Regions from separate parts of the Homo sapiens genome. Here region 2 is linked to region 1. The links come from fine-mapping of genetic effects on gene expression. A gene starts in region 1. The other region holds a variant in brackets. All regions are shown on one strand. Distances are between the middles of the regions.

What was found. PIP is the estimated chance that this variant, and not a neighbour inherited with it, causes the effect.
Region 2: its variant is the best candidate, but not a certain one, in a credible set for the expression of LINGO1 in skin (TwinsUK, PIP 0.73).

What each region holds. Positions count from the first base shown.
Region 1 is chr15:77,629,830-77,638,120 of GRCh38, forward strand. LINGO1 (leucine rich repeat and Ig domain containing 1) reads right to left here and starts at 3,083. Exons shown (of 2, transcript NM_032808.7): 1 at 2,481-3,083. The coding sequence starts at 2,486. It overlaps LOC105370906 (a long non-coding RNA gene), which reads left to right. Exons shown (of 4, transcript XR_001751806.2): 4 at 456-632. RefSeq lists enhancers at 1-507, 3,902-4,465, 3,907-4,036.
Region 2 is chr15:77,573,779-77,582,095 of GRCh38, forward strand. The region is part of intron 3 of LOC105370906 (a long non-coding RNA gene); the gene reads left to right. Among named protein-coding and RNA genes, the nearest start is that of LINGO1, 55 kb to the right of the region's middle. RefSeq lists enhancers at 1-495, 8,148-8,317. The variant C/T (reference allele first, on the strand shown) is at 3,797.

The DNA of each region.
Region 1 (8,291 bases):
GCTGGTACAATATTCAGTGCAAACAAGTGTGGTTCTATGCTGTGGGTGACTGGAGAAGGAGGGGCAATGACTTGAAGCAGGCAGAGAGGCTTCTTGGAGGAGGGGGTCAGGAGAAGGAGAGGAAAGGACCTTTTGTGAGGGGATGCGGGGCCAAGCCAGGTGAGGATGGGGGGATACGTGGAGGAACTGGTGGAAACAGAACAGAAAGCCTCCAGAGACTAACCATGGAGGTGGGTGGGGCTGGAAGGCCACTTCCACAGAGTGCCACACACAGGACAGCTAGCCCAAGAGACTCCAGCCAGCAAGCTAAGGCCCTGACTCTGAAACCACCACACCTACTACCCACCGCCCCCCACCCTTCCCTGGCTCCACTTCCCCTACCCTCCACTGGACACGCTGCCTCATGCCTCCGTGGGACCCTGCACGAATGACTGCACTGCCTTATCTCCCAACAGGAACACGCCCCAACCCCAATTGTGCTTCTCCAGATATCTGCGGCTGAAGGCGCCTGAAGAGCAGCACCACACATGAGCCCTCACCGGCACCAGGGATCCCGTCTAGCCTCATGCAGAACAACCACCCACCTCCACAAGAGGTTGTTTTTTGGGGGGTTGGGGTGGGGGAGGTGTCCCTCTGGGAGTCTGGGTTTTAGAAAACAATACCCAATATAGGAGAAATGGATGCCCAGAGGACAGAGGATGAAGATGAGCCCAGATGAAAGAGGACTATCGCAAGGGGTAAGTCTCTCCACCTCCCTCCCAGTCACACAGGGCCCTTGGCTTTGAGCACATGCCCATCCCCCTAAAAGCTGGTTCCCACTCTTTAACTCCAGAACCTGGGGAACACTGCAGCTTTAACTAAGCCCTACCCAGGGGCTCACACTTAAATTGTCAGGGGGTGAGGAGGGGGGCAGAGACAAGAACACCACAGGGTGCCTGTCCCTGCCTTCGCTAAGCCCCTTCCAGGAGGGGCAGCTGGGTGCTGCTGGGATCCCCGATGTGAGTCTGTGCCCTCTTTCAGCACGGTTCCAAGGAGTTATTGGTCTCTCCCCGGTGCCACCCTATACCCTCCCTCCCACCTCGGGCCACGGGTAGAAAGCAGGAAGGACAGGCATGCCATCCCAGTAGACCTGCTGCTAGTGCCTTCCCAGAGGCGTGAGGATTTTGAGCTCCTCCCTGGCTTATACAAGGACAAAGGGTCTGGGAGCAGCTGGCCCTCTTCTCCTCACTGACACTCTGCGCTGGATCTGGGGAAGCCCCAGGCTCTCTGCCGCCTGGGTGTCCCGGCTCATTGCTCCCTGGGCATGGGAGGCACCAGTGCTGAAGCCACTGGCATAATGACCAACAGGGTTGAGCCCAGAGCCGCGGGCCAGGCTGGGCTATGCGCCCTCTGGCTGCCCAAACCAAGCAGAGGACTGAGGGAGGGCTGGGCGAGCAGGAAGGGGCTGTCCAGATGCCACAGCCCCTACCTCAGGGCCTCCTGCACTCCCACCCGCTCAGGGCAGAGCTCTTCCCATCCTCTCAGGCCCCCTTCTGCCCCACCCCAACCCCAAGGCCTCTGAGAACAAAGAGGAGGTGCAGGCACAGTCAGGCTGGACCAGGCTGGGCTGCGACCCCAGCAGGAACCGGGAGGGGCTGCCCACTGGCCTGGCCCCACCCCTCCTTCTCAAAGTGGGATCCGCCCGGAGGGTCACATCTCCTGGCATGCCTTGAGAGCAGAGAGCCCACAGCCCACCCCGAAAAGGGTGTGAGGGGGAGCAGGAGGCTCCCTCCTTACCTCCCTCTTCTCAGCTGGTTCCCACCTCCCACCCGCTCTGCCTTAGAATGAAAAGTGGGGCAAGAGGAGGTGAGAAGCCCGGGCTGAACGCAGACAAAGGGGAGGCCCCTAAAGCGTTCCTGGGCGCTCCCGGTCCCCAACTCCCTTCCTTCCACTCTCCCTACTCCCCATCTCCTTTTCACTGGGCAGGAGCTGGAAAGGGGCGATGCTTGTGTGTGGTGGGGAGCTGCCATCCAGGCTGGAGCTTGTGGAGAAACCCAGCCCCTGACCTGTGTCCACCAGCTAGGGAGTGTCTGGTGCTGGTGGGGGCTGCCTGGGGGTACCTGGGGTCCACGAAGGGAGGTACCCACCCAGGGCTGAGCAGGGGGCTTACCCTCTAGAGTGACCAATACTCAGAATGGGAGGGGGGACAGGAAGGGGAGACCAGAGCAGGTCTGGGACACCCGTGGGGGCCCCTCCCCAGCTCCAGGCTCCCAGCTTACAAACCCGGAATTTGTTGGGGTTGGAGAGAGGGGAGGTGGAAAAGGAAGAATTTTCATTTCTGAGGCTTGAGGGGAAATCAGGCCTATGACCCCAAAGGAGGTCTGGGTGGCACCGAGGTGCCCTGCAACCCCAGGAGGGCGCAGCCAGGGCCGATGGCGGCCCCCAGGGGCACTCGCCGCGGGGCTGCCCGCTCGGGGCTCGGCCGCGGCCGCCTGGCTCACCTGCATCTCGGGCGCGCCTTCGGTCCGCTCGGCTCGGTCACCAATCGCATGTCTCTCCAGCCGGCCCGACCAGGCCCCAGCCCCTGCCCAGCCCCCTCCTCCGTTTCCTCCTCCTCCGACACCTCCGCCCGGCAGTCCGCGCGCCCTCGCGGGGCTGGCTGTCCGTCTGTCCGCCCCGCGCGGGCGGGAGCCGAGCCGGAGCCGGGGCCGGGGCTCGGGAGTGGGGAGGCGGGAGGCCGCGGCCCCGGCGGGCGGATGGGCGGGCGCGCTCAGGCCGCGGGACAGGGGCTGCGCGAGCCTGCTTCTGCCCCCTGGGCCGGCCCGGAGCCGCCGCCGCCGCCTCTGCCGCTGGGGCCGGGGTCGAGGCCGGGCGCGCTCCGCCGCGGGGCCGGGGCCGGCGGGCAGCGGCCGCGCATGCTGCTCGGCGCCCCGCGTCGGGAGAGGGGCCGGAGCGGCGCGGGTGGGGACTCCGCGCCCTCCGGGGCCGGGACCAGGACCCACCGCCGCCGCCGCCGCCTGCGCTGTCGCCCGCCGCCCGCTCCGGCTCCCGCGCCGGCTCCCGCTCGGGCTCCGCGCTCTGCAGCGGCGCGGGGAGGGAGCACTAGGAGCGAGCCAGGGAGGGAGGAGGGATCGAGGGAGGAGGGAGCGAGTGAGCCGCGGGAGCCGGGCGGGGGAGGAGAAGGCGCGGCCGCAAAACCTGGTGATGGTGGTGGTGGGGTGGGGGGTGGTTCGTCTCCTTTCAGCGGAGGGGGCGGAGAGCGAGGGGCGCCCCAGCCGCTGCCCTGCACGCTTAGGGCAGCGAAACAGGCAGGGGTGCGCAGGCGAGGGGCGCACCAGCCAGGCGCTCCAGCTCTGCACACGGCCGCGCCCCTCCGGGTCCGGGGCTCTGGGCGAGTCCCGGGCCAGCCGGGTGTCGGGGAGTCCGGCGTGCGGTCCTCCCTGGGTGTATGCGCGCACACCGTTGTGTGTGATTTTTGTGTTGCCACATGCGTGTGCATGTGAGCGCGCGAGTGTGTTTACACGTGTTAACTGGGCTGTGGACGAACACACGCACGAGGACGGACAGGGCTCCCTACACGAACAGGGTTGTTTGGAGGGCGGCATGGGGAGGCCGACCGGGAGCCCCCGTCCTGGCCCTGTCCCCTCCTCTCGAAAGTCCGCGAGGCTAGAGGGCCCACATTCTAGCGCGGGAGGGCGAGGCAGGCAGAATGGGAAGCTCCAGGGGACGGCGAGGAAGCCGCGCTGGCCCGGCAGCTCTACCCAGGAGCCGGGGTCCCCGCCCAGCCTGGCTTCCTGTCCAGCAGAGGGCGGCAGGCCTCTCTGGCCCGCTCCGTCCGGAGGCCCTGCACCCAGTGGCCAGCAGAGGGCAGCGCAGAGCCTCCGCCTGGGCTTGACTGTTCCCTCCTCCCGGAATGGTCCCGGGGATCCTCGGCTGGGGCCACAACTTCAGACGGGCCCAAGGAATGGGACCTCTCCTCGGAGATCCAGATCCTCCTTGATCCTCAGATACAGAAACTAGGCCAGCAGGGATGTCTTGGCAAAGCCTGCAGAGTAGGTTACCACCCTCAGGACCTCACCTTTTTCCCTATACTACCCCCTCCATCTCCTTGAAGCCAGACGCCCTTTACCACCAAGCCAGTTTTATTAGAATAACCATCAATGCTGACACCGCCCGGCACGGCCATCCCTCCTCCCCTGCTGGGAACAACCCATTAGCACATGAATACTCCTAATAGCTTGAGTCCACAGGGGCAGCTGAGGCTGGGGGAGGGGATCTAGCCCAAAGCCTCTCGGATTCTGGGGCAGACGCTGGAATCCCAGTTCCAGTGACACCCCCTCTCCCAGGAAGCCTGCGCAACATCATTGCAGAGATGCCTGGTTGCCACGGAGGGACCTCTCCCCACCCCCAACAGCACCTTGTTTCTCGCTGTTCAGCCTCACACACAGCCCAAAGGCTTGCACAGACCTTCTGTTCCAGCTGCACCATTTCTGGGTACTTCTCAGTCTCTCTGGCACACCGTTGCTCTGGACAGTCCTGTCTGGAGCACTTTCTCCTGTCTCCTATGTCTATGCCCATCCTCAACCTAGGCCTAGCTAGAGTCCCTCCTAGCAGGCGTCCATGCTATGCTCTACTGTGAACTGTACGTTCACCCTCCAGCAACTCTGGGGGAGGCACTATTGTTCCCCTGTGACAGAGGGAGGGAAGCCCAGGCCCAGAGAGGTTCCAGGCTCTGCCCATGGTCACACAGCCAGCAAGCCACGGAAAGGGAACTGGACTCGTCTTCTATGGCTGAATGGACCAGCAGGGGGCAGGCTCGGCAGAAGGACTTACAGGTGGGAGGTGAAGCAGGGAGGCCAGCACAGGAGTCCCCCTCCCTGCCAGAGCCCAGCGCAGGCGACTCCCCGGTCCCTCAACTCCGCGCTGCCTGGACCCCTCCCCAGACTCCCCAGCCCCCCCACCCCGGCTGTTTGTGAGCTACCCGTGCGCTCCCGCCCTCCCGCGCCGCCTCCTCCCACCAGCCCGACAGGAATAGACGCTCGCTGGCTCCTGCGTAAAGGCTCCGCCAGGCACCCGGCGGGCGCGCAGACCCGCTGGGGGGCGGGGGCGGGGGCGAGGGCTATTCCTGGTGCGGTGACTGACGCAGGCAAGGCGCGGCCACCACATCTCTCCGCCCCCGACTCACCTGCTCCCTGCCTCAGTGATCTCGGCGGAGAAATGGGGGAGAGCCCACTCATTCCACCCCGCTAACCCCCAGGTGCTACCGGAGGAAGCTGGGGTCCTAGGGTGGGGTATTTTGGTGCCCACAATGATCCCTCCGCGCCTCGGAGGCAGCAGGGATGACCACGGAGCTGTGTCTGGGAGGAAGAGCCCCTTGGCCTCGGTTCTCCACTGTCAATGGCATCCAAGCCATTCCCCTTTCCCTTTGTCTCCAAAAGACATGACCCCTCCCAGCTCTCCCTGTTTTATTCCAATGGAAACGACGGGGAGCTTTGGGGGAACAACTTGGAGGATAGGCCTTTTTGAGGGTCTAGTTTGGGCCTGGTGAGAGTACGGGTCCCTGGCATTGTCACCTAGAGACTCCAGGAAAAGGGGGTCTGTCACTGGGTCCCCACCCAGTTACCTCTGCATGAGCTGTGGAACAGGCATCTCTCCTCTCCTGTCGGGTGGGGTGGTTCCCAGCAGAGTCCTCTCAGGGGTCCCAGGGCCATGGAGAATGTGACACACCGGGATGGCCTAGTCCAAGTGTGCTCTGGCACAACCAGGGGATCATGTCCAGGAGCTACAGCTGAAGAATGTTCCCCGCACCCCAGGCCTTTGTGCCTGCTGGACCACCCTGGTGGCGTGCCTTTTCCCTGATTTCTACCTGTGCTTCAAAACCCAACCAAGACCCATCTCTTCTATTCCTGTCTCCTCTCCCCAGACTGAAATGACATTAGAGGCAAGGCCCAAATCTTTTCCCTCTATCCTCAGACTAGGTGCTCCCAAGAGCAGATCTGAGACTGCGTGTCTCATAGGTGGGCACACAGCAGACCCTGGCTGCAGGCTGAGAACTCAGCAAGTCCCAATAAAGCAGGAGCCAGTGGCTGGAAGGAGCCAGCCTGACTGCTCACTGCAAAGTGGAGAAGCTGGAATGGGTTTGCCCGGGAACACAGGAGGAGGGGAGAAGGCCCTCCACCATGTATTCAGCCCTTACTATAAGCCAGACTCAGCCACACTTCACATCTTTGTCTCTCTGCAAGATTGGCATTGCTGTTCCTACTGTACAGATGAGAAGACCGAGGCTCTGGGAGGGCTGGTGACTTGCTCAAGTTCACTCTGTGCACGAGTTAGAGCTGGGCTTTGAAGCTCTGTGTGTATCTAATGTTAGTCCTGCTCTCCTTTCACTCTGAGAGGCTGAGGAGGCAGGAGGTGGAGCTGGGGCAAGGACCAAGGGTCCCCCAGGCACAGAAAGGAGAGGGTGGCACACACAGGCCTGCCTACATGCCTGCTCTATGCTGGTCCTATCCACTGGCATCCCAGCAGCTCGCAGGGTTTTACGATGATGATTATTTCTGAAGGCACTTGAAATTAATGACGGCTCTAAAATGGCTGGGACAGCAGAGTCATTGCTGAGACCTCTAATTAGCAAGAAAAACGGAGACCAGGAGCCTTGGAGGTGAGTGGGGGTTGGGCAGCTGGCATTGGGCATGGAGCAGGGCTGGGGGAGTGAGGTGGAGCCAGCATCCAGCTGGGGGGCCCTGTGGAGCTGGGTGCTCAGGTGGACCCCGTGTTCTACTTTATGCCACAAGTTAACTTGTTAACTTGCTGTGTGACCTTGAGGGGGTCACAGCCACTCCCTGGGCCAAAGTTTCCCCAGCTATGCAATGAGAGGTTGCCCTGGGGGGGTCTCTAAGCTCAGGGCTCCTTGGACGACCCTGATCCCCTAAAAGGCTGAAGTCCAGAAGGTGGGGGCCATGTAGCCTCCAGAAGCCACCACAGAGACCCACAGCCCTCCATGATGGGGTTGCTGAGGCCGCTGTGTAATGAAGTACTAGGCTAGAGTGAAGTGGATTGAGAAGTGGCAGAAAATCCATAGGTCAGGCCCTGCGCTGGTGCACTGTGGAGGCCAGACAGGGATGGAGGCACCTGAGGGGGCTAGCGGGACAGTCCCTTCTTGGAGGTGGTCCTGGAGATGTGGCTCGGTATAGAGCCTTCCTGCCCCCTCCTGACCCCCTCCTCAAGAGTCAGAGCAGACTTGGGGACACCAGCTTCCCATGTAAGCATGTCACAAAGGGTCAGGCCTGAGTATCTTAAAGGAAAGTCCCTCATCCAGTGCTGCCCAAGTCTGGATCCTCCACATCCTGCATGGGGCAGCCAACATGGGGAAGGCACAGGGGCTCACCTGGAGGGGTTCTCTCCCCACAGTGGCTGGCCCAAGTTGGTGTGGAGATATGCAGGTTCCCAGGGAACATCCATGGTGGGTGCAGGCTGAGGCCAAGACTCAAGGGCAAGGGTGTGTGGGAGGCCCACCCCCGTTAACTGGGGCATCCTCTTCCCTGGCATTTACTTCATGCTTGTCTTGTCATCGATAGCTTTCTCAGCCCCTCAAATCCTCTCCCCTTCCAGTTCAGGTCCCTGTGTGTCCCCCTCCTTCCAAAAACCTGCTGAGAACCTCACCTTCCCCTCGGGCGGGGCTGTATGTCCCTGGACACCTTCCTGAGTCTCAGTTTCCTCCTCTGTAAGATAATGTCGGTTTCACGGGGTGGTGTGAGGGTCTCATGGCTTAACGTGTGGCTGGTATCTACCTGATGCTGATGTAGTAGGAGCTTGATAAATGCAGGTATTTTTAGGTGATCATACTGACTGTCATGGTCACTGGCTGCCTCCTGACCCCTTCTCTTTAAAGTCAGGGCTCTAGCCTAAGGTCCCTTTCAGCATTCCCACTCGGAGACACCTGGACCACATTCTCTGTCGCCTGAGAATCAGGAACACCCTGAGGGCTTGGATTCATCTTGTCTCCTCCAGTTTCCACAGCCAGCCCACAGCCCTGATTCCAGAGGGTCTGATGTCTACAAATTACACCTGACTGAAGTCTCTTAATCAGGAAGGCCCAGTAGATTCCCCTAGAGAGGAGGGCCAGGGCATGGGGGCAGGGACACTCTTGAATCCATACTTCTTACTCCCTCTCACCATGGGGCACCCATGCCTCCAAGGAAATGTTTCAGCACCAGTGACAGGTCACTTGTCTAGAAGCAACGTAGTCAGCAGCCTCCCCTACTGGGAATCTCACTGGGAATCCGGGGAAGCCCAAAGGCTCTTGGAGAACTCAA
Region 2 (8,317 bases), 56 kb before region 1:
GGGTGGGCAGAAGGCTGGGATAGGGCAGAACCTGTCCCTCCCTTCTTGCTGCCTGGCAGGTGACAGCTCCTCCACTCCCTGAACAAGGCAAGGCTGACTGACGAGAAGGCTGCAGAGCCAGGCTGTCAGCAAGTGCCCCCTGCCACCTTTGCATGACTAATTTGCATAATATTTGCACAAATCTGCATAATTTAGGAACCAGCCAGTGCTCATCTCGGGTCGTACAACTGGCTGTGATTTTATGAGCTTTGAAGTGGCCCTTTCTTCTCCTGCCCACAGCCCCTCCTACCTTCCTTTGCTCTGAGTCTGGCCTGTCATCCTGTTGTCTGCCTACCTCTCTGGGGCTGGTGGATGGGCCTCCCAGACTTTCTTGGGTCCCCAGAGAGAGCCCTTCTGCAGCTGCCGAGTGGAGTTGCCTGTGAACTGTGACACTGGTCTCCATGCAACCCTCCAAGGGGCCATCATGAAGGAGATTTGAGGACCCTGAGAAAGCTCTACATGGTTCATCAGGAGTAGGTGAGGCCAGAGTGACCAAAGCCTCTTTTCTGACAGGGCATGAGGAGGCAGGTGTCTGCGCTCCCATGAGGCTTTGCACTTGATGCTGGTGAGGCTGGGATAGTGCCCTGAGGATCAAGGTGCAGGACAGGGCAGAGATTGTGACTGCCTGGTCAAGCAGCTGCCCCCAAGGGAACCAACTCACAGTTACTGTCAGTCCAGGTGGATGTCCCTATAGCAGTGCCACAGCGCTCTGTCCCTGCCCTTTCAACATTTTTATTCTTAGGTTAGTTAAGGTTTTCTTGGGTACAAGTAGCATGAACTCCAAGTGGTTTAAGCAAAAGAAAAAAAGAGAGAGGATTTACTCTCTAATGTAACTGAGAAATCCAGGGGTATATGGGCTTCAGGCACAGCTGGATCTAGAGGCTCAAACACTAGCATGAGGACATTGTCTCTCTCTGTCTTTTCTACCCTGCTTTCCTCAGTGGTGGCTTAAACTGGCTCCCTCCCTGCCATGGCCCCTGGAAATGCTAGTGTTATGTCCTACTGGCTCCAAGTCCAGGAGAATCAGAACATCTTCCCACCAGCTCCAGCTAAAATCCAGAATTTAGTGGTATTGATTTAGCTTGGGCCGTGTGCCCAAAGCTGAACCAAGTGTTGTGATCAGAAGCATGTGGCCCTTTCAGTGGTCAAGCCCCACGTCACATGCCGACCCTCAGGGGCATGGGAGGAGTCAGTCCCACTACAAGGATTGAGGGAAGGGGGAGGTTCCTTGGGGAATACTAGGGACTCCTCCCAGAAGACAAGGAAGTGGAGAACTGAGCTGGCAACCCCAGCTGGCCATGCAGGGCCTTTCTCAGATGAATCTGTGGGTACCAACTCCAAGCACGGGGATCTGGAGATTCGGAAGGGAGAGGTTTGTGAGGACTGATGAGTTTATGGATGGGGACACATGGTGGGTGCCTGGCGATGGGAACTTTCTTCCTTCTGTGAACAAAGGCAGGGCTTGGGTGGGATTTGAACCCAGCCCCACAGTTCCTGGGCACTTGGTGGGGCACAGTGCTACGACTCCCAGTGATGCAGAGCCCCGAGCCACCCACCTCTAAAAAATGAAGACAATGAGCAGAAGGGAGGGCGGTGGCCACTGGTATAAGGAAGGGGAGGTGCTGGAGTTGAGCTCTGAAGGAAGGTAGGCAGGGCACCCTGAGTTTCCTTCCAACAAACGCTGAGCGAGCCAGGCCCTTTTTTTAAACAGGGAGACTGAGAGGAAGGGAGTCATTGCAGACACAAGAAACCCCACTTTAGCAGAATCCCTCATCAACTGCCCGGCCCTCCATCCCATCCCATCCTATTGGAGGCCAGAACTGGTGAGTCTGCGTTCCTGCCTCCCACCTCCAACAAGCTCAGCACTTTCCCTGCTCACTCAGGTCCCTGGCTGCCCAGTCCAGGATTGAGGCTGCAGCTCAGGCCCCGAGTTCCCCGCCCTGCCCACACCCTGTGCTGCCCGGGTTCATGTGGGGCCCGCAGAGCTGGACTCCTCCTCATTGAGATTCTGCCCCAGGGAAGGGCCAACACTTACCAGGCACTCACGATAAGGCAGGTGCTGGGCTAAGTGCTTTCACTCATTAATTAACAACTCGATGAGAAAGATATGATTATCTTCCTCCCTGCTTTACAAATGAGCAGGCTGAGACCCAGAGAGCTTGAGCAACCTGCTTAAGGTGGCACAACTAGCAAATGGCAGGGGGGTGTGAACCCAAGACTGCAGACCCTGGGTTCTTTACGTTGCAGCCTGTCCCCTCCTCTCCCTGTGCCTCAGTCCCACCGTCTGTTCAATGGGCAGAATATCACCTGTGTGCCATGCTGCCAGAGGTATGGGAGAACTGAATAAGATTTTAGAAGACAGGGCTTCAGCAAAGGTCCTTTAAGCCAGAGCCCTTGTCCTCACTGCCAGGGAGGAGCAGGGGGAGGCTGGAGCGCACAGCCCGCAAAGACTTGGGCAGACAGAATGTGTGAAGGAACATGGTCAGCTGTGCCTCATGCTGGAGGAGGAGGAGGAGGGGGAAGAGGGGGGACAAAGGGGAGGAGAAGGAGGAGGAGGGGGAGGAGGACAGGCCTGTAGGGGTTGAGACTGAGACCTTTGCTGGAGGCCTTTGGTGGAGGTGAGCGGAAGGCAGCTGTCCAGGCTGCACGGAGCAGGCTCATGGCAACCACGTGTGGAGGATTTCAGCTGGAAGGGGAGAAAGGAAGGAGGGAGGATGGAATAGAGTGAGGAGAGGGCTTTCTGATGCCAGAGGAAATAAGGCATGCTTGGGTCAGAGCAGGAGCCACCCAGAGAGGGAAAGGGGACACCTCCTCATCTCCCAGTCACACAGCCCTTGCTGGTGGCTCTATGACCATTAACCATTGCCTGCTCGCCATGGCCCCTGCAGTATTCATGTTGTACCCATTTTACAGAGGAGAAAATAGAGGCTCAGAGAAGCAAAGCTCCACTGGTTCTCCCAGCCTGGGGGTGCTTGGTCTGGAGTTCACAGGTTCTGCTCTCTGCCTGCCCACCTGCTCTCTGTGATTAGAGAAGTACAGGTAGAGGTCTTACTTTTTGTACATTGTCACACTATTCTCCCAGAGCTTGGCCATTGAGCCCTCCTTTGTGGGCTCTTAGGGCAGCAGGAAAGCCCACTTGGGTCATCACAGCCTCATATGTGACTGGTGTTCCCATAGCCCCTGCCTTCCCACAGGGGAAGAGTCAAGCTCAGGCTCAGAAACATGCTAGCAGTTATTGCTGTCTCCAAGATGACAAAATGCTTCTGAGGGTGGTGCTCTCCCCAGCTCTCAGGATGTGCACGCAGAGGCTGGTGCTGTCTGGGCCTGGGCTAGTGTGGTTGGGATCGCTGCCCTGCATGTAAGGTGTCCTGGCCCGCTCCGATGTCCTTCCCAACTCTTAAGGAATTCCATGCCTAATCATGGAATTTCCAGCAGGCCAGTTGATCAGAATGGGTGCATGTGTGTGTGTGTAGGTATCCTCTCAGAGCCCCTCCAACCTCACTGTGTGGTGGGCTGCCTCCTCTCTCTATGTGCCTCTCCCTGCCCCAAGTTCTCCCTGGACATGGTATGGGCAGATCCTCATAGAGACAGCCAATATTCCCTTGTGGGTGACCACAGCAGCTGCCCAGAACAAGAGAGGGAGAGAGAAACCAGGGCCTGGGCATGGAGCAGTGAGCCGGCCTCCCCCTCTAGGCCATGCAGCTGGAGCCACGTGATGCTCATTTGTGGAAGCCGGCTCCTGCAGCCACTGGGTGTC[C/T]GTAGGAAGCTGCTAATCCCATCTCATGCCTGTTCTCTCCTGGGGGCCAGCTTCCGGAAGATCAGCCTGCCCACTCTCAGGAGACATTTGGGGTGCTTCCTGGCTTTGCCAACTGATTCCAGGCCCCTGGTGGCTGTGTGAATTTCCTTCCAAGTCCTCGTTTCCACAGATGCCAGCTTGCAGGCCGACTGGTGGTTACCCAGCAACACGGCAAATATTTGGGCCAGCCAGGCTGGTCCATGCCCCCATCCTCGATTTAGTGAGACCCTAGAAGCATGCAACCTTGCCAGCTTTGCCTACTTTGAAAATATCTGGGCACTTAGTAAAAATAACTCCACTCAGCAAAAACCTTTCCACTGACCCCTTACTCCAGGGCTTTCTATCTGAGGACCTGGATGGGTAAGTGGGGGACAGGCAGAGATAGAGGGAGGAGGGTGAGAAGGCTGCAGGGGCCAGTGGAACGAGGAAGCAAGAGCTGAGGGGTGAGAAGGCCCAGGTTTAGACCTGGCTCCCAAACCTCTGACGGGTGGGAATGGCAGACTGCACACACCGCTCAGGCAGGTGTGCCCCAACTCACCCTTGTTTCCCTGGCCCTCAGATCTGTTCTGCTCCCAGGGCTCTGCCCCACATCTCAGTCCTGGGCCTGCAGCACCCCCACTTTATCCATCCCGCTAGAACCTGGCTCCTCCCTCCCAACTCAGGAAACATCTGTGTCCCAGTGGTCTTCACACCACACCCCTTAACTCTTGCCCCACTCCAGCACTCCATCTCTCTCCTGGGGGCCTTAGTGGTCCTCTTGGCTCCTCCAATTCAACCTGCACACTGGACCCAGAGCCTGCTCTAAAATGCAAACCTGCTGCCCTCTGAGATCCCGTTTAGAATCCTCTAGGCTTTCCTGTGTCGCCTGCAAGCCCCCCAGCTGGGTACTTGTGCCCTGCCCATTTCCCCAGTGCCTGCTCCCCCTCCCCTCCAAAATCCCCATCCAGCCATGCTGCCCAGACCTCTGGGCCCTTGCCAGGGCTGTTCCCTGGTACCACCCCCCACTCCCCACACACCTCCCAACATGAACCTGGCTACTCCCAGCACCTTCTTGGGGATGCTCAGATTGGGCCAGCTCTTCCGGCATTCCTGGCCTGACCCCCGTCAGTCCCTCCAACACTGAGCAGTGATTTTACCTTCACTGATCTGTCTCTCACCGTCCAGGCCCCAGCCCTAGTCCTGGTCCATCCACCACCACTAAGGAGCTCCTCCTGGCAGGGACCAGGTCTGCCAGCCCGCACACTGCCTTTGTGAGAATTAGAGACACCCTTCTCCGGGTGGCCACAGCCTCACATTGTGGTGCAAGGCTTGGCAAGTGGAGCATGGGCTAGACTTCAGCCCCTTCCCCCTCGGCTGGGCACGGTGATCCTGGAATGCACTTATCTTGACTGTCTCTGGGGCTGGCTGGCATAGAGCGGGCACTCGAGGGAGTGGGCTGAGTTAAGGAGGAGTGAGCCCTGTCCCTCACAGGGGCCTCTCGTCTTGAGCCTTCTGCCCCAGCTGGTCACAGCTCCCATAGCGGGTTTCAGTTTTCTTCTTGATCTTGGGTGCTTTCAGCTGTGTCTGTGGCAACAGGGCACTCACATGGATGGGGCTTCCAGCCTGGCACCTGGCTAGGTCCAGCTGGCGCTCTGTCTGGCCTCGAGCATGCTCATTTCCCCAGGGAGTGTACTGATTTCACTCCTGCTCTTGGTGACACTGTACAAACAAAAACCACTGTGGGAGGCTGGGCACGGTGGCTCACGCCTGTAATCCCAGCACTTTGGGAGGCCGAGACGGGAGGATCTCTTGAGTTCAGGCATTCAAGACCAGCCTGGGCAGCACAGTGAGACCGGGTCTCTAAAAAGAAAATTATATTGAATTTAAAAACTACGGTTGGAACTGACAAGCTGGGGTGTCCCAGATAGGGAGGGCCTGGAAACAAGAGCCAGGAGAGGTGGCTGGAACCTGGGACAGGGAGGGGCAGATGCCGAGGCAGGGCTGCCATGCAGTCCTGGGGCCTGGGGCCTGCTCAGCCTCACCCCCACCCCAATCCTTCCCTGCATCAGGCTGTGGCTGCCTCTGGGGATTTTCCTGAGAAGAGGCAAAAACTGGCACGTCCATCCTGTCTCAGGTGGGGAGCAGGTACCAGGCTCACTGGGGCTGGGAAAGGCACAACAAGCCCCCACGCAGTCCAGCGTCTGGCGGGGAGAAGGCTAACCCTGCGAGGCTCTGTCACACTTGGAGAAAAGCGCAAGTCCTCACAGCAGCCTACATGGTCATATTGGTTCGGCCCCCTCTCCTCTCTAACCTCAGGGTTCATGCTCCCCCCACCCCCAGCTCACACTGCTTCCCCCATGCTGGCCTCGTCAATGCTCCTTCTGCATGCCAGGCACACGCCCGCCTCAGGGCCTTTGCACTTGCTGTTCCTGTGGCCTCAGATCCTCTTAGCTCAGGCCCCCCGGGACTCACGGCTTCACCCTCTTTGCATCCATACTCAAGGACCATCTTCTCAGTGGGGCCTTCCTTGACCACTTCTTTAAATTACAGCTCCTCCCTAGCACCCCCAAGTCCCTGCTTAATTGTTTTCCATAGTGCCTATCACCATCTGAAATACAATTCATGGGTGGGGATGATGGCTCATGCCTGTAATCCCAGCACTTTGGGAAGCCGAGGTGGGAAGATCTCTTGAGGCCAGGAGGTCCAGGCTGCAGTGACCTATGATTGCACCACTGCACTCCAGCCTGGGCAACAGAGTGAGACCCTGCCACTTATTTCATTTGGTGTTTGTTTCCCCTCTAGAATGTAAGCCCCATGAGGTCAGAGACTTTTCATTGCTCTATCCCCAGTGCATAGGATAGTAGGTAGAATGAATGAGAGCTTATAGAATAAATAACGGAATGACTAAATTACAGTAGTAATAATAACAATAGCAGCTGTCATGTTTGGGCACCCACCTGTGCCAGGAACTTTGCGTCTACTATTTCTTTGAATCCTCTCATGCTTCCTATGGTGAGAACACTCAGGCTCAAGAGGTGAAATGACTTTCCCAAGGTCACCCGGCCAGTGGGGGACTGAGCCAGGCTAGTTGTACCACACATCCTGGAACGTACCCACGACATGGCTGCTAACAGCAGAAAGGGGCTGCCTCCAAGGCCTGCCCTCAGCTCTCGCCATCTGGAGACTGTTGGCTTTGGCCCTGAGACCCCAGTGCACCCCCAGACCCTGACATTCCTGACCCAGGAGTGGGTCAGCGATGGACCAGAGGCTTGGACTGGGAGAGATATATGAGTATCCACCCTTTGCTCCTAAAGCCGTGGACCCGCACTGTTCTCTGTCCTCTGCCAGGCCCTCTGCCAGGGCCATCCGACATCTTCTCATGGCTGGCCCATGTCAATGTTTCTACTTGCAGCTTCCTAAGAGTATGACTTAAAAGGCATGGCTTTTAACCTCCCTGCTGCCTGGCCCGTCCCCTACTGACCATTTCAGCAGCACACGAATTATTTTCCACCTCAACCTCTTTCTAAATCTACTTGTCACTAGCTCTTCTCCTATTAGCCCCCCAGCCACTCAATCCCCTGCCATTACCTCCTCCAGCAGGGTCCCCAGGGAACGTTGTGTATGAAATTATTTTGTGAAACCCAATAAAGATTTTAATCAGGTCAACATCATTACAGGAGAAGGAAATGATGGATCTTCTCTGATGCAGAACAAATGTGGAGAAGAACAAAAGCCCACCAACCCGGCAATCCATGCCCTTGTGAGCACTCGCATCCACGCACGCACTGCCCCCACTGTCGCGCATGGGTGCCCTGCACTTGCACACACCCGTGCATGCCCACGGGGTTTTGCACATCATTGAACAAGTCCCTGCCTCCCTCTAGGTTCTAGTTTTGTCATCTGTACACTGGAGGCTTGATTGCTGAACAAGTCTCTCCTGCCAGCTGGCGAGACTCCGTAGCCTGGTGCCTGCTGGCAGCTGTGCCCTTAGTCACTCTTTGCCGCCCACTGCTGAGAGATGTTACCTCAGAGCATAGGGAATTCCTGTGTAACGCCCCAGCCCCTGCCCCGGCCCACACCTAACACTTGTGAGGTATGGGGTAATGGTACCAATGGAGGCCCACACACCATGTATCTAGATATTTAAAGGTTATCAATCAAGCCAACAAATTGTTAAATAAAACACGTTCTGGGCTCCTCCCTTGCCAAGCAGCAGCCTGGAAGGCCAGGCTCAGCTATGGAATTGTCGGGAAGAACTGACCCTCAGACCCCAGCCCCAGGCCCTGGCCCAGCCCCTCCCCTATTACCCTACCCTGAGCTCTGTGCCACCCTTAAAAGGACCTTGTTCACATATGTGGGGACAGACACCCCGGCTGACAAGGCCAAGCTCTGCCCACTCCCTCCCCGCTGCACCCACCCCCGGGACACCCCTCAGGACTTGAGTGTGCACATTGGCAGGCCGAGGGAAGAAGCCCGTTTTGGCAGAGTTCCAGGGTCCTCTGA